3 linked regions of the Homo sapiens genome follow. The protein of the gene in region 1 purifies or fractionates together with the protein of each later gene. This does not show direct contact. Each region holds a gene or a part of one and is shown in the gene's direction. Other genes may lie near its edges.

Region 1 (7,039 bases):
CACCCACCAAGTGTCTGGGGGCGGGGAGCTTCTCTCTAAGAATCTGAGGGTAGCCTGAGAGCGGTTATTGGCCTCACATTGTACTAGGCTCTTAATCTTTCTTGTGTATTAACAGATTCTTAATCTAATTCCATTGCCTGTTATTAATTCTCCATTAAGACTGTTGATTTATTGCTGAGTCACTCATTGGGTCTGCTTCATGTGCGATGAGTTTAAAATGCAGATGAAACCGGCTGACTTTTCCTGACCTAGGTGACGCTCGCTTAGCTGTGGGAAGGAGCACCGCCTTAGGGAGACTGAGGATGGCGATTTTAAAAAGCTTTTCCTCTTTAATAATTACCTGAATGCAAGTAGGTCATAGCCTTGGTCACAGAACTTGGTTCCCTGGTATCCAGGGCTCTGTGGGTGTGTCGAGGGCTATAGGGTTTGCAGACACGCCCTGTCAGGGTCAAGGCACCAATATGAGCGCTAAGTGAGAGCACTATGGGGGTGGCGCCGGGCACTGTTGTTAAATCTCAAAGGCACGAGGGCCTAAGGTCTAAGGGTTAATTTCAGGCTGCAAGAAAAGAATTGTGGGGCCGGGCGTGGTGGCTTACACCTGTAATCCCAGCACTTTGGGAGGCCGAGGCAGGCGGATCACGAGGTCAGGAAATCCAGACCACGGTGAAACCCCGTCTCTACTAAAAATACAAAAAAAAAAAAAAAAAAAAATTAGCCGGGCGAGGTGGCGGGTGCCTGTAGTCCCAGCTACTTGGGAGGCTGAGGCAGGAGAATGGCGTGAACCCGGGAGGCGGAGCTTGCAGTGAGCCGAGATCGCACCACTGCACTCCAGCCTGGGAGACAGAGCGAGACTCCGTCTCAAAGAAAAAAAAATTGTGGGAACTGCAAGCCCCTTAACCTTTCCTGACCTGATTTCCTTCTCCGAACATAGGGACAATGATTTGTGCCCTCTCATAGCCACATAGGCGTCTCCGCCACTCAGCACCTCAAGCCACAGCAGGAGCGGAGGTTGTCCCTGTGTTCATGGAAAAGGCAGCACAGGGGTTTGCCAGGCCCAGACGCGCCACCTTGTGGCCGCAATGCATATTGGCTTCAGCTGGGTCAGGAAATGGCCCCCCCCCCCAGTCTATTTACCCAGGGTGCATGTTAGGAAAACACACCCCAAATTCCTTGTATCAGACAAAATTCCTTGATTTGGAATTGTTTAACTGAGCGCACTGCAGGCTGTTTGGCAGATAGCTTCCTCCCTGGGGCAGCAAAGCCGGGAAACTAGGCGATTTCATTAACCCATTCTCCAAAAAATGTGACCAGGGTAGGTCTCATTTGAGAGTCTCGCTCTGTCACCCAAGTTGGAGTGCAGTGGCGCACATTTGACCACATTCTCTTCTTTCAGTTTTTTTCACGTGGAAAATGGGGATAATAATTCCACCTAATTCCAAGGGTTGTTGTGAGAATCTCATCAGGGTGGGCTTTTCAGCTGGGCACAGGCTAAGCCGAGGAATAGAGGAAGGCCGGTGGAAATCACTTTCTCTGGGAAGAGCTGGCTTTGTGATTCCCGACATCGTATTGACTTATTTTGGTCAAATGTCACTAATGTTCCATCCCTAAATCTCCTCATGCTATTGCCTTCACTGACTGCAAATGATCTCTGCTTTTTCATGCTTTCTTACCCGTCATCATTTTCTTTCTGTCGGCCACTAGCTAAGGAACACATACGGCGTAATCGGCAGAGTCGGACCTTTTTGGTGGAGAATGTCATAGGAGAAATCTGGTCCGAGCTGGAGGAAGGTAGCGTCCTTCAATGTCCTTTGCTCTTGCTGGATTTTCCTGTGCTGCTCGTGAAAAGCCATTCCCATTTGTCCCTTTTGCACTTTTGGAAAATGTTCAAACTCAGTGGGTTCTAAAGACCACTCATGCAGGGAGAGCTCTTTTGGGAGCTGTAATTTTGCATGTTGTAAAACCAGGTAGGGATTGGAATTGATCAGTTCCAGAGTAAGTCTTTGGTGAAACGCAGATGATTTTAGGGCACTCACTATTCACGTGGCAGGAAACTGCCCACTAAGTACGTGCCAGGTATGCAGCAATGTGTGAATCTTAGATTCACTCACCTGGGTTCTCCATCGTCCATGTCTAACCATCCTCCTGGGCAGATTGCATTCTCTTTGGTCATGGTTAACTCCTAGAGCTGCTAATTAGCAAAACCATTGTGCTAATGAGAAGTTTTGAGGGCACTTAGCTGGGTCTACCTAGTTACCACCCACAAGCTTGTTTCAGATGGGGTTGGCAAACAGTCTGTGTAAAAGATGGCTGTTTTTGTGCCAGGTGATAAGTATGTGGTTGTGGACAGTGGCGGTGGCACCGTAGACCTGACAGTCCATCAGATCCGGTTACCGGAGGGACACCTTAAGGAACTGTATAAAGCAACAGGTGAGGCCCTGCAGGGCTAATTTTCTTATTCCTGAGCCAATTCCAGGCAGTTCTGTTTTCACTTGTTTCAGATAACTCTCAGTTTTATTCTCTTGAATGCCACTAACATGTGGGATCGTAGGCGGTGGAGGATACTAATGTCTGCTTGAAATTGGAAAGCAAAATGCAATTAAACATTCTTTAAAACACAAACCACCACAACTTGGGTTTTGGCCTAAAGCGAGCCTGTTTCAGATCCTGGCCAAGGGCGCTGGTTTCTGAAAATTCCGAAAGGATGAGATTGCAACTTGATGTTGCCCATGACCGTGCTAAGGTGAACTTTCTAGGGAGGCCTCACCTTGTCTTGGATCAAGATTGCCAAACCATTGGCCAAGTGCGGTGGCTCACGCCTGTAATCCCAGCACTTTGGGAGGCCAAGCAGGCAGATCACTTGAGGTCAGGAGTTGGAGACCAGCATGGCCAACATGATGAAACCCTGTCTCTACTAAAAATACAAAAATTAGCTGGGCGTGGTGGTGCACACCTGTAGCCCCAGCTACTCAGGTGGCTGAGGCAGGAGAATTGCTTGAACCCAGGAGGCAGAGGTTGCAGTGAGCAGACATTGCGCCACTGCACTCCAACTTGGGTGACAGAGCGAGACTCTCAAAAAAAGATTGCTAAACCAAAGAACATGCTGTTTCCCTTTTGGGAGGTTGGAGGGGAAAGGATAATAAGTAATTAGAGGATCACACAGGGACTAGACCAGGCCTGCTGATTTTCCAGCCCCCGCCCTTGGATGTCTTGGATTGGAATACCATAATGGTCCTAGTTAGATAAAATTATTGATTTTTTAAAAAATGTAATTGATTTAAAATAGATTGTTGGCTGGGAGTGGTGGCTCATGCCTGTAATCCCAGAACTTTGAGAGGCCAAGGCAGGTGGATCACCTGAGGTCAGGAGTTTGAGACCAGCCTGGCCAACATGGCAAAATCCCATCTCTACTAAAAATACAAAAATTAGCCGGGCATGGTGGTGCGTGCCTGTATCTCAGCTACTCGGGAGGCTGAAGCAGGAGAATCACTTCAACCCAGGAGGCGGAGATTGCAGTGAGCCAAGATTGTGCCACTGCACTCCAGCCTGGGCAACAAGGGTGAAAACTTTGTCTCAAAAAAAAGAAAACACAAAAATAAAATAATAAAGTAAAGATTGTTGACAAGAGATTTCTGTAGGGAAAAGCTTCTCCACATGGAATGAGAAGCAGCGCAGGGTTCTGAAGTGTAAGTAAACACTTATAGCTGCCGTCCCATTGCTAAGTGGCTCAGAGATGAACAGGTGGGCCTGTTTCTCAGAGTCTGGATTGGGTTTCTAATGGTTTTTAACACCATGGCCTCCCTTTTTGTTCTCAATTCAGGCGGACCCTATGGATCTTTAGGAGTAGATTATGAGTTCGAAAAACTTCTGTATAAAATATTTGGAGAGGATTTTATTGAACAATTCAAAATCAAACGCCCTGCAGCCTGGGTTGACTTAATGATTGCGTTTGAGTCTCGCAAAAGGGCGGCTGCCCCAGACAGAACTAACCCGCTGAACATCACCCTGCCCTTCTCCTTCATTGACTACTACAAGAAGTTCCGCGGGCACAGTGTGGAGCACGCCTTGCGGAAAAGCAAGTGAGTTGGGCTCATCACCTCGGGCTCTGGACATTCTAGCGGGTGGATCGTGCTGATGGGAGAGAGGAGCGAAGTGTGGACTTCGGGTTCCAATCCTACACACTTGCTGTATGACCTTGGGCAAGGGACTCAACTTCTCTTCCCTCAGTTTTTTTCACATGGAAAATGGGGATAATAATTCTATGTAACTCCAAGGGTTGTTGTGAGAATGCAATGAATTCATACATGTTGGGTGCTTAGAACAATGCCTGGGACCTGGCAAGTATTATCTATGTGTTTGCTAAAAACAGAGGAACTATGAAAGCAGCGAAGTTTAGTTTTGGCCCCTGCCATATCCCCAGTGTCTAGAAGAGAACCTGGTATGCAGTAGGTGCTCAATAAATATTTGTGGAATTAATCCAATGGGAATGTAGGTTTCTTGCCACTCTGAGTCCCTTGACTGATTTTGTGTCTCAGCTTGTTGCAAAATGAATATATTTAGAAGACGGTTTAAAGCCGAATTTAAAAAAAAAGATAAAAATAATAGATTTCTAATATTCTTAAACATTTTAAATTTATATATATAATATCCATCATGAAATGATGACTACAGACAGATTTACCTATCTATCATATTTCATAATTACCTTTTTCTAATAATCCTTTTGTAAGGGAACATGTCAAACATTTATCCTGTAAAATACCCCATTGTCCAGCTTCAACAACTGTCAGGTCCTGGCTAGTCTAAATCCAATTATTTTAAAGCAAATCTTAGAAATTAGCATCTCATCTATTTCAGTATGTACCTCTAAAGGAGACAAGTTTTAAATCACAACCACAATACCACGATAACACTTAACAATTAATAATTCCTCAATATTATCAAGTATCTAATTAACATTAACATTTTTCCATTTGTCTTTTTTTTTTTTTTTTTCACTTTGTACCAACATCCAAATGAGGGCTCTACATAGCAGCTATCTGATACGCCCCTCGAGTCCCACTAATGTACAGGTTCCCCTCCTGGTTTTTCCTTCACAATTTATTAGATGGCAAAACTAGTAGTTTGTCCTTAGATTGGAGTTTCCTATCATCTGGGCTTTGCTCATCTCACGTCCGTGGTGTTACACAGCAGGTTCTATCCCATAGCCTTTTTTTTTTTTTTTTTTTTTTTTGCAAGTTGGCAGATGGACTTAGAGGTTTAATCAGATTCAAGTTTGAATCTTTGGCATATCTGCCTTACGGGTGGTGGTTCCTCCTACTGCATCCCATCAGGGGACACGAAATGTCTGCCTGTCTCTCCTTTTGTGATATTAGCAGCCATTGATGATTATTGCCTGGTCCACTAATGCATTAGGGGTGGCTCCATGGCCACCATCTTGGTCCATCACTCCTTCCTCATTTATTTAGCTAGAATACTCCTAGAGAGAGAAACTTGGCTCCTCAGTGGTTTGGTTGCCCTGAACTACAGCTCACTTAGGGAAGACAGGATAAATAGGTTGGGTTTCAACCTCCATTTATGAGTTAAAAAAAAAAAAAGAATCAATTTCCTAGTATCCGCCAAAGTAGCTAATGAATTTTTCCTTTTGTGAGGGCATGAGGGGGAGTATCATTAGGAATTTGAGGATTTAAGCATATTTGATGTATTTTAAACAATGGCAATTCTATCCTTATTGACACCCACACTGTCCCATCTCGGCCAGTAGGAGCCTTCTCACGTTGGCTCTGAATCCCTTTGACATGACATTTGTGGTGGTTGACAGTGTCTTTGCCTCCTTGTATGTGAAGACACTCTTGGCTCATCTTGTACATTCCCTACCCCAGGCCTGGAATTGGCCATTTCCCTAAGAAGCCCTGGTTCCTTTTAGTGGAAGTGAAAGCAGATTTCATGTCAGGTCTTCTTGCCCTTGGAGCAGGGCCAGTCTGGACCCTCTTACTGGGCTGATGTTCTCTGCCCCGTTAGTCCCCCACAGAGGGCACCTGTCCTCTGTTTGGAATCCCAAGACCTACCTGCACAGTTCTGGGGCCTGTCAACCCTCCCACTAAGAAACAGGCTGCAGCCAGCCATGGGGTCATTCCATACCACACCACATTGTCCTTTGGCCTACGCCATGGAAAGGATTCCTTACCAACATGTTCTAGATTCCCGTCCAGCATCTAGAACATGTTCCTGGGAAGCTGCTGGTGTGCACTTTGCATCAGGGACAGAGGCGCCATTTGCTTGGCCTCTGAGAACAGGAGGGGCACGCCCTGTGGGTTTGGGGAATACACAGTCCCTGGCATTTGCTTAGTGCCAGAAAGTTTCCAGAGCGCTTTCACAGACATGGTATTTAACTTCGTCTTTACAACAACCCCCGTGAAGGAGGTAAGGCAAGCGCAGTTATCCCTGACTTCCAGACGTGGAGACTGGGCTTGAAGAAAATGGAGTCTAATCTGCCCAAAGTCCCAGAGCTCCGCAGTGGTGGTGGCCAGGCTAGAGCCCCACAATCCTGGATTCCCGTCCAGGACTCTCTGCTCCACACTGCTGCTTCTGGACAGAGACCGTGAGGGCCACCTAGTAGAATTAGGCTTACTCTGTCACCTGACAGGTGCCTGGAAGGCTGAGGACATGCACCTGAGCGCACACATGTGTAGCCGTAAGTAGCAGTACAATAAACTCGCCAGGGAGCTTTTAACGTGCTTGAATCCAAATATTGTTGGGTTCAAAGTGTGGTCCTGCGAAAGAGACAGTGAGCCCTTTATCTCCTTGTCTTTGCACTAGACTTTGGCCTCCACTATCCCAGGGGAAGGTCGGTCACAGCCAAACTTAAGATACAGAGAAGAGATTATGTCTTAGCTTTTGAGCTTCTAAGGGTCCAGGTCCTGGCAGTTTAGGGTTTCCAAAGGTGCTTTTGGCTTTCAACCCCCTTTCTGCCTGCTAAGAAGTGACAGATGTTCTGCCAGGGCAGGTGTCTATGCAGATAAGCCTGGGTATCGTGTAGACC
Region 2 (6,978 bases), on another chromosome or scaffold:
ATGTTGAAAGTTGAGGTGGGCAAGGGAATGATTATAATGATGAATCATGGGCTCTAAATTGGACCAAGAAAGAAATGAAGAATGGATAAAGACAAATTGGTGGTATTAGCAGATTAGTGGTCTCAGTGAGGTTGAAGAATTACAGCAAATAGGGTATTAGCACAAGGAACTGAAAGGCTAGGTGTTGGTGAATGGACAGTGGGGTATTACATTTTCATATTTCAAAGATGAAGTACTTTTTGGGTGATTAAAGTGTTGACAGTGTGAGCTCAGAAGTGTTGGTTTAATTGAGGAGAAAGTTGTTGGACGTGAGAAGGTAAAAGGATTAAGAGATCAGGATACTGAATAGGTCACGAACATGGATGTTGAACTCACCCAAGGATGAAGTTCAAGGATGGTGCCAGCAGGCATCGGAAGGGGCAGGGAAAAGATTACATTGACTGGGAGGTCGGAGGATGACAACAATCAAGATGAGTGGGGTGGTCATCTGAATAGCAAGAGCTTTAAAGGGGCAGAGATATTTACAAGAGGGAGGAAACCATTAGGAAGTTCAAGGTCAACTCTAGGAACAGTACAAGCCTTTTGACTAACATCCTTGAGTGAATCACGTTCAAACCAAACCACGCGAAGCCTTTCAGTTGGGAATGCTGTATTCCAGACCTTTCCACCAGGGGGCGCGATCAGCAACGGAGAGCCTAACTACAAGCAGTCCCTCGAGGCCAGGTAAGTGTGTCTCAGCTTGAGCTCTGAGGACCCCTAGGGCTCTTCTAAGGTATTGCAAAGAGCTCAGCCATCCTCTGGCACAGCCACACACACTTGCAGAGATTTTTTTTTTTTACAGTGTATGTAAATCTTGAACAACAAAAAAATACAAATTCCTAAATTCTTTTAAAGAAGTTACTGACTTAGGCCGGGCGCGGTGGCTCACGCCTGTAATCCCAGCACTTTGGGAGGCCGAGGCAGGTGGATCACAAGGTCAGGAAATCGAGACCATCCTGGCTAACACAGTGAAACCCCGTCTTTACTAAAAACATAAAAAATTAGCCGGGCGTGGTGGCAAGAGCCCGTAGTCTCAGCTACTCGGGAGGGTGAAGTAGGAGAATGGCATGAACCCGAGAGGCAGAGCTTGCAGTGAGCCGAGATCGCGCCACTGCACTCCAGCCTGGGAGACAGAGCGAGACTCCGTCTCAAAAAAAAAAAAAAAAAAAAAAAAAAAGGAAGTTACTGACTTAGACCAGGCATGGTGGCTCACTCACGCCTGTAATCCCAGCACTTTGGGAGGCTGAGGCAGGCAGATCACCTGAGGTCAGGAGTTTGAGACCAGCCTGGCCAACATGGCAAAACTCTTGTCTCTACTAAAAATACAAAAATTAGCTGGGCATGCTGGCGGATGCCTGTAATCCCAGCTACTTTGGAGGCCGAGGCACAAGAATCTCTTGACCCCGGGAGACGGAGGTTGCAGTAAGCCGAGATCCCGCCACTTCACTCCAGCCTGGGCAACAGAGCAAGACTCCATCTCAAAAAAAAAATTACAGAATTATTAAAAGGTCTTAGTTATTATGTATTTTCTCGATGAAAAGTGACAAAGTACAGCTACTATCATGTGGAATTTGGTGACATTTCTCCCTGGGTAAAAGGGTTTTTTCATAACTGCAGGTTTTGAGAGTTGACTGGTAACACCCATACTTAAAAATGTTCTTCCCAGATCACTTTTTGCAAGCATGAGATAAGAAGAAGAATACAAAGCTGGAGTCAGAATTGTAGTAGCAGCATCAACATCAACATGAGTGTTTACTATGCACCAGAAACTGTTCTAAACATTGCACATAAATTTACTCATTTATTCCTTCTATAATCTTGGAAGGTAGGTGCTATCATTAGCACCATTTGACAGAAAATAAGGTCCAGAGAGATTAGGTCATTTGCCTAAGATGACAGAGCTCCTGGATGGTAATGTTGGTGTTGTGGACTTGAATTTCATCTTTCCATTAGCCGGAACAGTCTATGTTATGTCACAGGAACAAATACCCCTTGAATCTCACAGTTTAATTCAACAGAGGGTACCTGTTCTGTATGGGTTAGCAGGGGGGTTAAGCTTATTATGCTAACTCAGGGACTAATGCTGACACAAGGTTCGTTTTGATATATGCTTTCATCGTCATGATCAGTAATCACTACCAAGACGAAAGAGTATGGGAAAGAGTCTAAACTGGAAATGAAATGCTTCTGCTTGAAGCAATGCATGTTACTTTACACATTTCACTGACCCAAGCACATCCAATGCCACTCCCGACTTCAAGGGGACAAGAAAATGCACTTCTACCATGAGTCTATTAACAAGCAAACCAGATTGTTGGCATTAATGATTAATACAAACATTCTGAGAGCTGGAGCCGTTCGTGTCCTCCTTTGGCTTCAGCTTCCCTATCCACAAAAAGACCATGATCATTTTGTAAGAATCTCTTGTTGTAAGGATCAAAGAGCCACATTTGTTACAGCTATAATGAGGCAGAATGGTTGCATCCAACCAAAGCTTCCATCAGCTGAAAATCTTGATCCCACCACAGGCAGCCCTGTAGCCCTCCTTACTGGGCTGTCTGCAGAATGGCCTTTGTCCAGATGAAGGTACATGCCAATCTTTTTGTCACTCACACACCTGAGGTTTTGAAGGACATAGTTTTCACTTCAATCAACAACATGCCATAGTGGTCCTGGCCTTTGCTAGAAATTTTGGTCTGGAACCACCAGCTGTTCAGTTCCTGTTGAAAGTTCCAGACCACTTTAGCTTGATAGAGATTGCGAGGGTCTCCTTCTTCCAGGTCCTCCAAACCCTCTCTTTAAATCAAGTCAGGCCACCAGGACTGTTTACTTGGCCCCTCAGAGTTTCCACAGACACTCCCAGGACGTCTGCTGTGAGTCAGGGATGAGCTAAGCCATAGAAATTCCTTTGCCAACCACAAGCCCTGAGGGTAGTACAAAAAATACCCCTAAAAAGAGCATTTCCCAAACTTCTATGCAAACAGTAGTAACCACACTGCCAATCACCCTCCAGAGTGCTTTGCTAGATCCTTTCCTATGGGGCCATTTGACCCTTCCTCACTCCTCTGCTAGCCTAGGCAGTGCACTCCATGAGGACGGGGACTACCTTTTCATGTGGGTTTCACTATGTGCCTGGCACACAGCACGTTCTCAATAAATGTTTTCCGCATTAAGACGCTTCTTAGGAGTCTTCATGTAAGTTCATACACGACTTCCTTGTAGAATTGTGTCAATGAACATGCAATTAGGCTAGCTGAACTTCAGGCCCTGAGAGTCTATGAAGCTAAAATAAGGCCCAGATGTGGGGTGGGAGGGGGAGTAGGCAGAGGCGGCAAAGGAGGACATTTCAGGCAAAGGGAGCAGATGTCCAGGCAGGAAAGCACAAGGTAACGGGGGCACAGGGGGCGCACCACTTTTCCTGGAAGGAAAAAACAGCAGATGAGAGAAGGAGGTTGGAGCCAGTTACCAGTAGAGGTCTATGTTCAAAGTCCAGAAGGAAGAAACAGCAGGACGGGGACAAAGAGAGGAAGGAGGAAAGGAGGCACGGTGTATGAAACTCTGTAGCCAAGAGCGCTAACAAATGAAAGGCAGGATGGGTGGAGGAAATGTACTGTGTTCCAAAGCTTCCTCTTATTTATGGGTGCTCCCGGGCCACAGAGGAGTAAACTGAAGGACTTCCCAGCTCCCCACTGCCCAGAGAGCTAGCGGAGTCCCGCCTCGCCCCGTCACATGGCCAGAGGCGCCCTCGGCACGTGACCTACCTCGCGCTAGGCCAATCAGCCTCTGCAGGGGCGGGGCCACCGAGTCCGCGGGGCGGGAGTCTCCGTCGGAGCCGCCTCTTCTCGCGATCCTTGCGGCGGTCGCTCCTCAGCCGCCCACGACCCGGAGCGAAGGTCTCGCGAGGCCTGGGCGCTGCGGCGGCAGGAGGAGGACGGGGAAGGACGGAGCCGAGCCGCGGCTGCCTCCCTCGCTCACTCCCTCGCGCACTCGCCCGCCCCCTCCCTCCCTCCCCTCCCTTCCCCGGCCCCGGCTCTGGCCCCGGCCCATTCGCTGTTGGGTCTTCTGCTAGGGAGGATGTCGGGTTCGTCGCTGCCCAGCGCCCTGGCCCTCTCGCTGTTGCTGGTCTCTGGCTCCCTCCTCCCAGGGCCAGGCGCCGCTCAGAACGGTAAGCGGGGCGCCGGGGGCGGGCCGGGCGGGGGTTGAGGGGCGCCGGGGCCGGAGGGGGCCCGGCTCTGGCCTGAGGAGACGCTGGAGCTCGGGGAAGGGGGCCGAGTGGGCGTCTGAGGGGCTGCGGGTCCGAGAGGAGGTACCGGCTGCGGGTTTGAGGAGGCGCGGGTGTGAGGACCGGAGGCTCCTATCCGAGCGGCGGGGGCGTCCGGGGTGAGCCCGAGGTGTTGCCCACTCGGAGGCTCCACGTCGTGGGGCTCGTCGTGCCGGGTCGGCGAGGGGACACGGAGGAAGCCGACGTGGGGAGCTGGAGTAGCGGGGGCGGATGAGGAGGGGGCGCAGCTCTTAGGGAGGGTGGCACAAGACCGGCGTTTGTGTTCCGGGCGACGGGGATGGTGGTGTCCGTCAGGCCCCCCGGGAGCTGGGGTCGTCCAGGATTCTACTGAGGCCCCGTAGGACTGGTGACATCCTTAAAAATAAGGGGGAAATTGGGGGGAAGAGAGTCCTGAGGAACACTAATGGTGAGCTGAGTACTAGAGACCAAAGGAGGGGGTAAAGAATCAGGGAACCTTGGATCTAGGGATAGAGGGAAGGTGGGTGGGAAGATGAGGGAGTGGGTTGACTGCAGTAGGGGACCTGGAGAGAGAAGCAGCAGTGTCTCCAAATGAGCTGGGGGAAGAGGGCTGGGTTTGCTAAAGAGGGTGGAGTGCTGGGCATTCTAGGGTAGTGGTTGGGAGAGCAAAAAGGAGTTTCTAAATAAGGAGAGGAAAATGAGCAGAGGATGGAGGGAAAGGGTTGGAACTGAGGTGGGGGAATATTTATTAGAGAAGTAAGGAGGCCTGGGTATAGAGATGGGGGTGGGGGAAGACGAAAAATAAGGGAAGGGAGTAAAATGCAGGAAGTCGGGGGTGTAATGTTGGTTTGCAGTGTGGAGGATAAATTAGGGAAGGGAGGAGTTGGGATGTGGCAAATGCTGTATGATATTGGTCGGGCCTTTGGGAAAACAGGGACACATAGCTGCAACTAATTGCAGTGGTGGGATTGAGGGCAGTGACTGGCGACAGGGAGATGGGGAAGTGGATTTTTGAGATTTAAAAGTTTCAAGACAGAAGAGACGTTATTTCCGAGGAACATGAAAGTGGCCCCTGGGAGGTGGTACAGTAGAAAGCAGAGAATTACTGGGTTTTGAATTGAAGCTCCTTTGAGAAGATGGAGAAGTGGTGGGGAATCATGGGCATAGGGACCTAAACAGAGCAGATTCTGATTGAAGACATGTGTTAGCATTCAGCTGCTGAATTGATCTTTCACAAGTGAGTCTAGGATTGTGAACCTGTTTCTGCCCTTGTGGAAACAGCCATTAAGAGGTTAAAGAATATTTTTTCTGTGAAGGAATTTATGAGAAGTCAGTACTGGAGAGTGAACTATAAATTATTTTTGCTAATCTTTCATTGTTTATTGTTAGGCCAGAACAATTTATGATTACTCTTATTAGAGAGGCTGCAATTTAAATTTTAAAAAATCAGTGATAGAGCCAGTGGAGTTTTTTGAGAAACTGGGTTTAAAATGCTGAATGTTAGAGTTTGTTTCATTATTCCTAAAACGAATAAAGGATTGACAATATCCATCAGTTAAATATGTGTTCGTAGTACCAAATTTTATGTGTGCTTCATGGCCTTGGATATCACTGCAGGGGTCAGGAAGGAAACATTTTTTCTGTCTCTAGCATTGAATATGCTAAGTGTATTGGGTATTTTTCCTGTTTTCCTCTAAGCATGAGTCCACTGTGGAAGGCAGGGTAGAGTTAGTCTTATTTGTCTTATCAGTTTTTCGACTGTGTCAACATGACTTAAAGAAGCCTAATGCTAATTTTAGCTATTCAGTTTATGGTAATAGCATAGTTTCATTTTGCACAATAGGTGAGAGATTCTTGATCTTAACATGTTTAATCTCTGCTGGCTTAGCTTTTTTCCAATGATTTATAATACGGTAAAATTGTAGTTTCTTAGCAACTAAAGCAAGGTTTCTGGATAGGCCTATAAAGACTCATCTGTCTGCTCAGTGATATGTGTTCTAAATACAGCATAGAACGGCCTTTCCCTTGAAATGAGCTTGAATTCAGTCACATGACATGACCGATGAAATGAAGCTGAGCTGCTGGTTGACCCAAATGAATGTAAATTTAATTCAAGGAAGAGATGGCTATTTTTGAGTTTGAGTTCCTATAGTTATGGATGCCATTTTATAGCTTTCTATATAACATGTCTTATTATAATATTCAAGCTTTCAGCTGGTAATAAATAGCCCTGCAGTGATCTGACTTCATGTCATGGAGTTTGTGTTTTCTTACAGTGCTTTCAAAAAGGGATACCTTGCTTGTGCATGATGTTGAAATGTTAGAAATGTTAGATTTTCTATTTAAATGACTGGAGAAAAAAACTCACAAGTATCTCTGAATTGGGAATGTAGTAGTTTAGATTGAATATAGATGTTTTTCAAAAGGCATTTGTTTCATTATTCCTAAAATGAAGAATTTGGCCTGTATGACTCTCAAGGTCTCTTGAAGCTCCAGTGAGTTTCTGACCCATTGTTGTGGACATTCAGGGCTTTCATTCAGATGGATTTTGTTTCTCATCCAAGAATTTAAACTTGTAAGACCAATTCCAAGTAAAATCCTTATTTGTTGACTTCTATATGTATCATCAAAATGGTAGTTTAAAGAGGAACTTGTTCTAAAAAGTAACCTTATAAGACATTCAAAAGCATTAGACTGCA
Region 3 (4,132 bases), on another chromosome or scaffold:
CACTGTGCTCAACCCATCTTCGTTTTCTTTTGTTTTGTTTTGTTTTTGAGACAGAGTCTCACTCTGTCACCCCGACTGGAGTGCAGTGGCGCAATCTCAGCTCACTGCAACCTCAGTCTCCCAGGTTCAAGCGATCCTCCTGCCTCAGCCTCCTGAGTAGCTGGGATTACAGATAACACACCACCATGCCCAGCTTAGTTTTGTATTTTTAGTAGAGACGGAGTTTCCCCCAGGATGGTCTTGAACTCCTGACCTCAAGTGATCTGCCCGCCTCGGCCTCCTAAAGTGCTGGGATTACAGGCATGAGCCACCGCACCCAGCCCTATCTTTGTTTTTTGTTTGTTTGTTTGTTTTTGAGACAGAATCTCGCTCTGTCGCCAGGCTGGAGTGCAGTGGCACAATCTCAGCTTACTGCAACCTCCACCTCCTGGGTTCAAGCGATTCTCCTGCCTCAGCCTCCCGAATAGCAGGGACTATAGGTGCATGCCACCATGCCCAGCTTATTTTTGTATTTTTAGTGGAGACAGGGTTTCAACATGTTGGCCAGGATGGTCTCGATCTCTTTACCTCATGATCTGCCCTCCTCAGCTTCACAAAGTGCTGGGATTACAGGCATGAGGCACCGCGCCCGGCCCCATCTTTGTTTTTTTAATGGAGTTAAACTATGGTATTATTAGGTCACTTTGACAACTATCCTGTTGTTAATAAATGAGAGAGAAAAAGGAGATTTTATTTACGCTGATTCTTCCTCCTCCTACAGTTAAACTCATTGTCTGTTTGGAAGACCAGAATGTGAAGACAAGTAGTAGAAGAAAATGAATGCTGCTGCTGAGACTGAAGACCAGTATTTCAGAACTTTGAGAATTGGAGAGCAGGCACATCAACTGATCTCATTTCTAGAGAGCCCCTGACAATCCTGAGGCTTCATCAGGAGCTAGAGCCATTTAACATTTCCTCTTTCCAAGACCAACCTACAATTTTCCCTTGATAACCATATAAATTCTGATTTAAGGTCCTAAATTCTTAACCTGGAACTGGAGTTGGCAATACCTAGTTCTGCTTCTGAAACTGGAGTATCATTCTTTACATATTTATATGTATGTTTTAAGTAGTCCTCCTGTATCTATTGTATATTTTTTTCTTAATGTTTAAGGAAATGTGCAGGATACTACATGCTTTTTGTATCACACAGTATATGATGGGGCATGTGCCATAGTGCAGGCTTGGGGAGCTTTAAGCCTCAGTTATATAACCCACGAAAAACAGAGCCTCCTAGATGTAACATTCCTGATCAAGGTACAATTCTTTAAAATTCACTAATGATTGAGGTCCATATTTAGTGGTACTCTGAAATTGGTCACTTTCCTATTACACGGAGTGTGCTAAAACTAAAAAGCATTTTGAAACATACAGAATGTTCTATTGTCATTGGGAAATTTTTCTTTCTAACCCAGTGGAGGTTAGAAAGAAGTTATATTCTGGTAGCAAATTAACTTTACATCCTTTTTCCTACTTGTTATGGTTGTTTGGACCGATAAGTGTGCTTAATCCTGAGGCAAAGTAGTGAATATGTTTTATATGTTATGAAGAAAAGAATTGTTGTAAGTTTTTGATTCTACTCTTATATGCTGGACTGCATTCACACATGGCATGAAATAAGTCAGGTTCTTTACAAATGGTATTTTGATAGATACTGGATTGTGTTTGTGCCATATTTGTGCCATTCTTTTAAGAACAATGTTGCAACACATTCATTTGGATAAGTTGTGATTTGACGACTGATTTAAATAAAATATTTGCTTCACTTAGATTTGCTGGTTTTATTAGATACCAGGAAGCCTGGGACATATGTGTACCACATTAGAATTCTAAAGATAATGATTGATAAGCTAGAACTTTCTGATGTAGTCATTACATGAAACCCCTTGTCACTGGTTTGTGTGTTCAGAGGAAGCCATGGCCGAGATAGCTTTCCTGAAATAAACCAGTAGCTTTTCAGATTGACGTTCTTGCTACAATTGTACCATCTGGTAATTCCTGAAAATGTCAATTTTTTTGTGTTAATATTTTTGGTTTCAAACAATAACAAATGTCTCTAGAAAGAAATTTTAAGAAAGCTTAATTAATAGTAAAAATGCCTTTCCTGAAATAATCTTGGAAAATTTTTTAAATGTCAAAATGATGAGTCATGCTAATACATTGAGGGTTTGTTTTTTTGTTTGTTTGTTTGTTTGTTTTTGAGACAGAGTTTCGCTCTTGTTGCCCAGGCTGGAGTGCAATGGCACGATCTCAGCTCACCGCAACCTCCACCTCCCGGATTCCAGCGATTCTCCTGCCTCAGCCTACATTAAGGGTTTTGTCAGACAATTGTCACACGAAGAATAGTGTCACTTATCTACTCTTGACACACAGAACTGGCCTGGCATATAGCTTTCCAGATTTTACTCAAACTTGGTACTCCAGTTTGAAAATTTAAATTTTGACTGCTGATTAGCTGGAAAGCCTAGTTTTAATGGAAAGAAAGTTTGCTTTTAAAACTGAAAGTAGTTTCTTTTTGCTAACAAATCTAACTTCATACATAATTGGCCATATTAGTAAAACACCTCATGATAGCAGTGTATATATAGTCTTGTTTGTAGTTGGAAGTCATCTTTTAGGAGTTATTCTCAAATATATATAATAGCTACCCATGCATCATTATTAAAATCCCCAAATTCAAAAAACCTCTGATATATATATATAATTTTTTTTTTTTTTTTTTTTTGGCCAACTGAGATTGAAATCCAAGTGCTGGTTTCTAGTTCTGAACATCAACTAAAGAGTTTTGGAAATGACAGCAATTTATAACAAGTTCATATTGACTTCCTCTCTATGGCAGGAAGACATTCTGTGCTGTTTTGAACAGATTAAAGATTTGTGTAGTTTGTGGGAAATTGACGTTTTTGTTTAAATTCCACCCGCGTTTGTCTTTTCCTACCACCTGTGGCCAGGTGCTCGCTGGCCATCACAGTTGCGATTCCATGAGTAGCTGCTTTATGACTGCTTTTTGTACTATCTGGATGTGCCCAGAGTTACTTCTGTACAAGCTCTGTATCTATGTCCGTTGAGAACATTATTTTAACAAGAAGAACACCAACAGTAGCATGAAATATAATACTGTTTTATAATTCTAAAGCTGCTGTTAATTTATGAAGTACATAATAATCTAATGTAAACTGCAGAAGTCAGAGCAAGTGCCTACATTTTGTTATTTTTGGCATTACTACAGAGCCATGTACAATAGAAAGCAATGCAAGACTTGTAAACTCTCACCACTTCTTGTAATATCAAATGTTCCCCCTCAGGTTATTTTGCTTATGGTACCCATGAGTTGCCTCTCTCTGTACATAGATAAATTGTTCCAATATTTTCCTTTGATGTTTGGAACTACAGATAGTCAAGGGCTGGAAATTTTAGTTTTCAATATAAGCTTCCAGCTTAGCAATTACCTCTAGTCGAAGACAATATTTGATTCCTAGTTCTGTTTGGGGCAAATTTTCATTTATCTAAATAAAATGCAATCTAATTAAATGCCATGGATTTTCTTTCTGTAATTTCACTGTGATTCAGTTTCCATTGCTTTTCTCTTGTCTGTTGTGATATTCGTCATACATTTAAGCTCTGCTTTTAACTACTTAGCACCCTTTGTTCATAGAGCATCATGAGAGTTTGGAATGAATGTATCTAGGATAGGCGTGAGTCCACAAAGATCTCTATTCATGATCATAACCTTTTTGGGTCCTGGGCTCCTTTAATTAGAATCTCATTAAGCTTCTAGCTGACCTCGGACTCCCCAATATAAAGTTTTATGTACAGTTTTTGGATAGTCACACAAACCTTCTCTGAAATGCCAACCAATAACCAGAACCAGAGTTAGAACCTCTTTCTCCAACCCTGTAAGAAAGGAAATGGACGCAGTCCAAGGATTCCCAGATAGTAGCAGAGCTCGGAACCGGAACACAAAATCAGTGTCACATAAATTCAAATCTACATGACTATTTCTTTTAAACATTTATTTGTATTTTGATTTCATATTTTGTAGAGATGGGGTCTGGCTCTGTCACACAGGCCGGAAGGCAGTGATGCCATCAGA

What was found.
Region 2: the proteins of HSPA12A (region 1) and NPTN purify together in Homo sapiens (co-immunoprecipitation; 2 studies listed by BioGRID and IntAct, with this or other methods). This does not show direct contact.
Region 3: the proteins of HSPA12A (region 1) and AKAP12 purify together in Homo sapiens (affinity purification with mass spectrometry; 3 studies listed by BioGRID and IntAct, with this or other methods). This does not show direct contact.

The regions. Positions count from the first base shown.
Region 1 is NC_000010.11:116,676,540-116,683,578, reverse strand, and holds part of HSPA12A (heat shock 70 kDa protein 12A), read left to right. Parts: intron 1-1,701; coding exon 1,702-1,788; intron 1,789-2,322; coding exon 2,323-2,427; intron 2,428-3,817; coding exon 3,818-4,076; intron 4,077-7,039. UniProt on the Homo sapiens protein: Adapter protein for SORL1, but not SORT1. Delays SORL1 internalization and affects SORL1 subcellular localization.
Region 2 is NC_000015.10:73,630,351-73,637,328, reverse strand, and holds the start of NPTN (neuroplastin isoform b precursor), read left to right. Parts: upstream 1-3,939; 5' UTR 3,940-4,113; coding exon 4,114-4,204; intron 4,205-6,978. UniProt on the Homo sapiens protein: Probable homophilic and heterophilic cell adhesion molecule involved in long term potentiation at hippocampal excitatory synapses through activation of p38MAPK. May also regulate neurite outgrowth by activating the FGFR1 signaling pathway.
Region 3 is NC_000006.12:151,354,967-151,359,098, forward strand, and holds the end of AKAP12 (A-kinase anchor protein 12), read left to right. Parts: intron 1-760; 3' UTR 761-3,593; downstream 3,594-4,132. UniProt on the Homo sapiens protein: Anchoring protein that mediates the subcellular compartmentation of protein kinase A (PKA) and protein kinase C (PKC).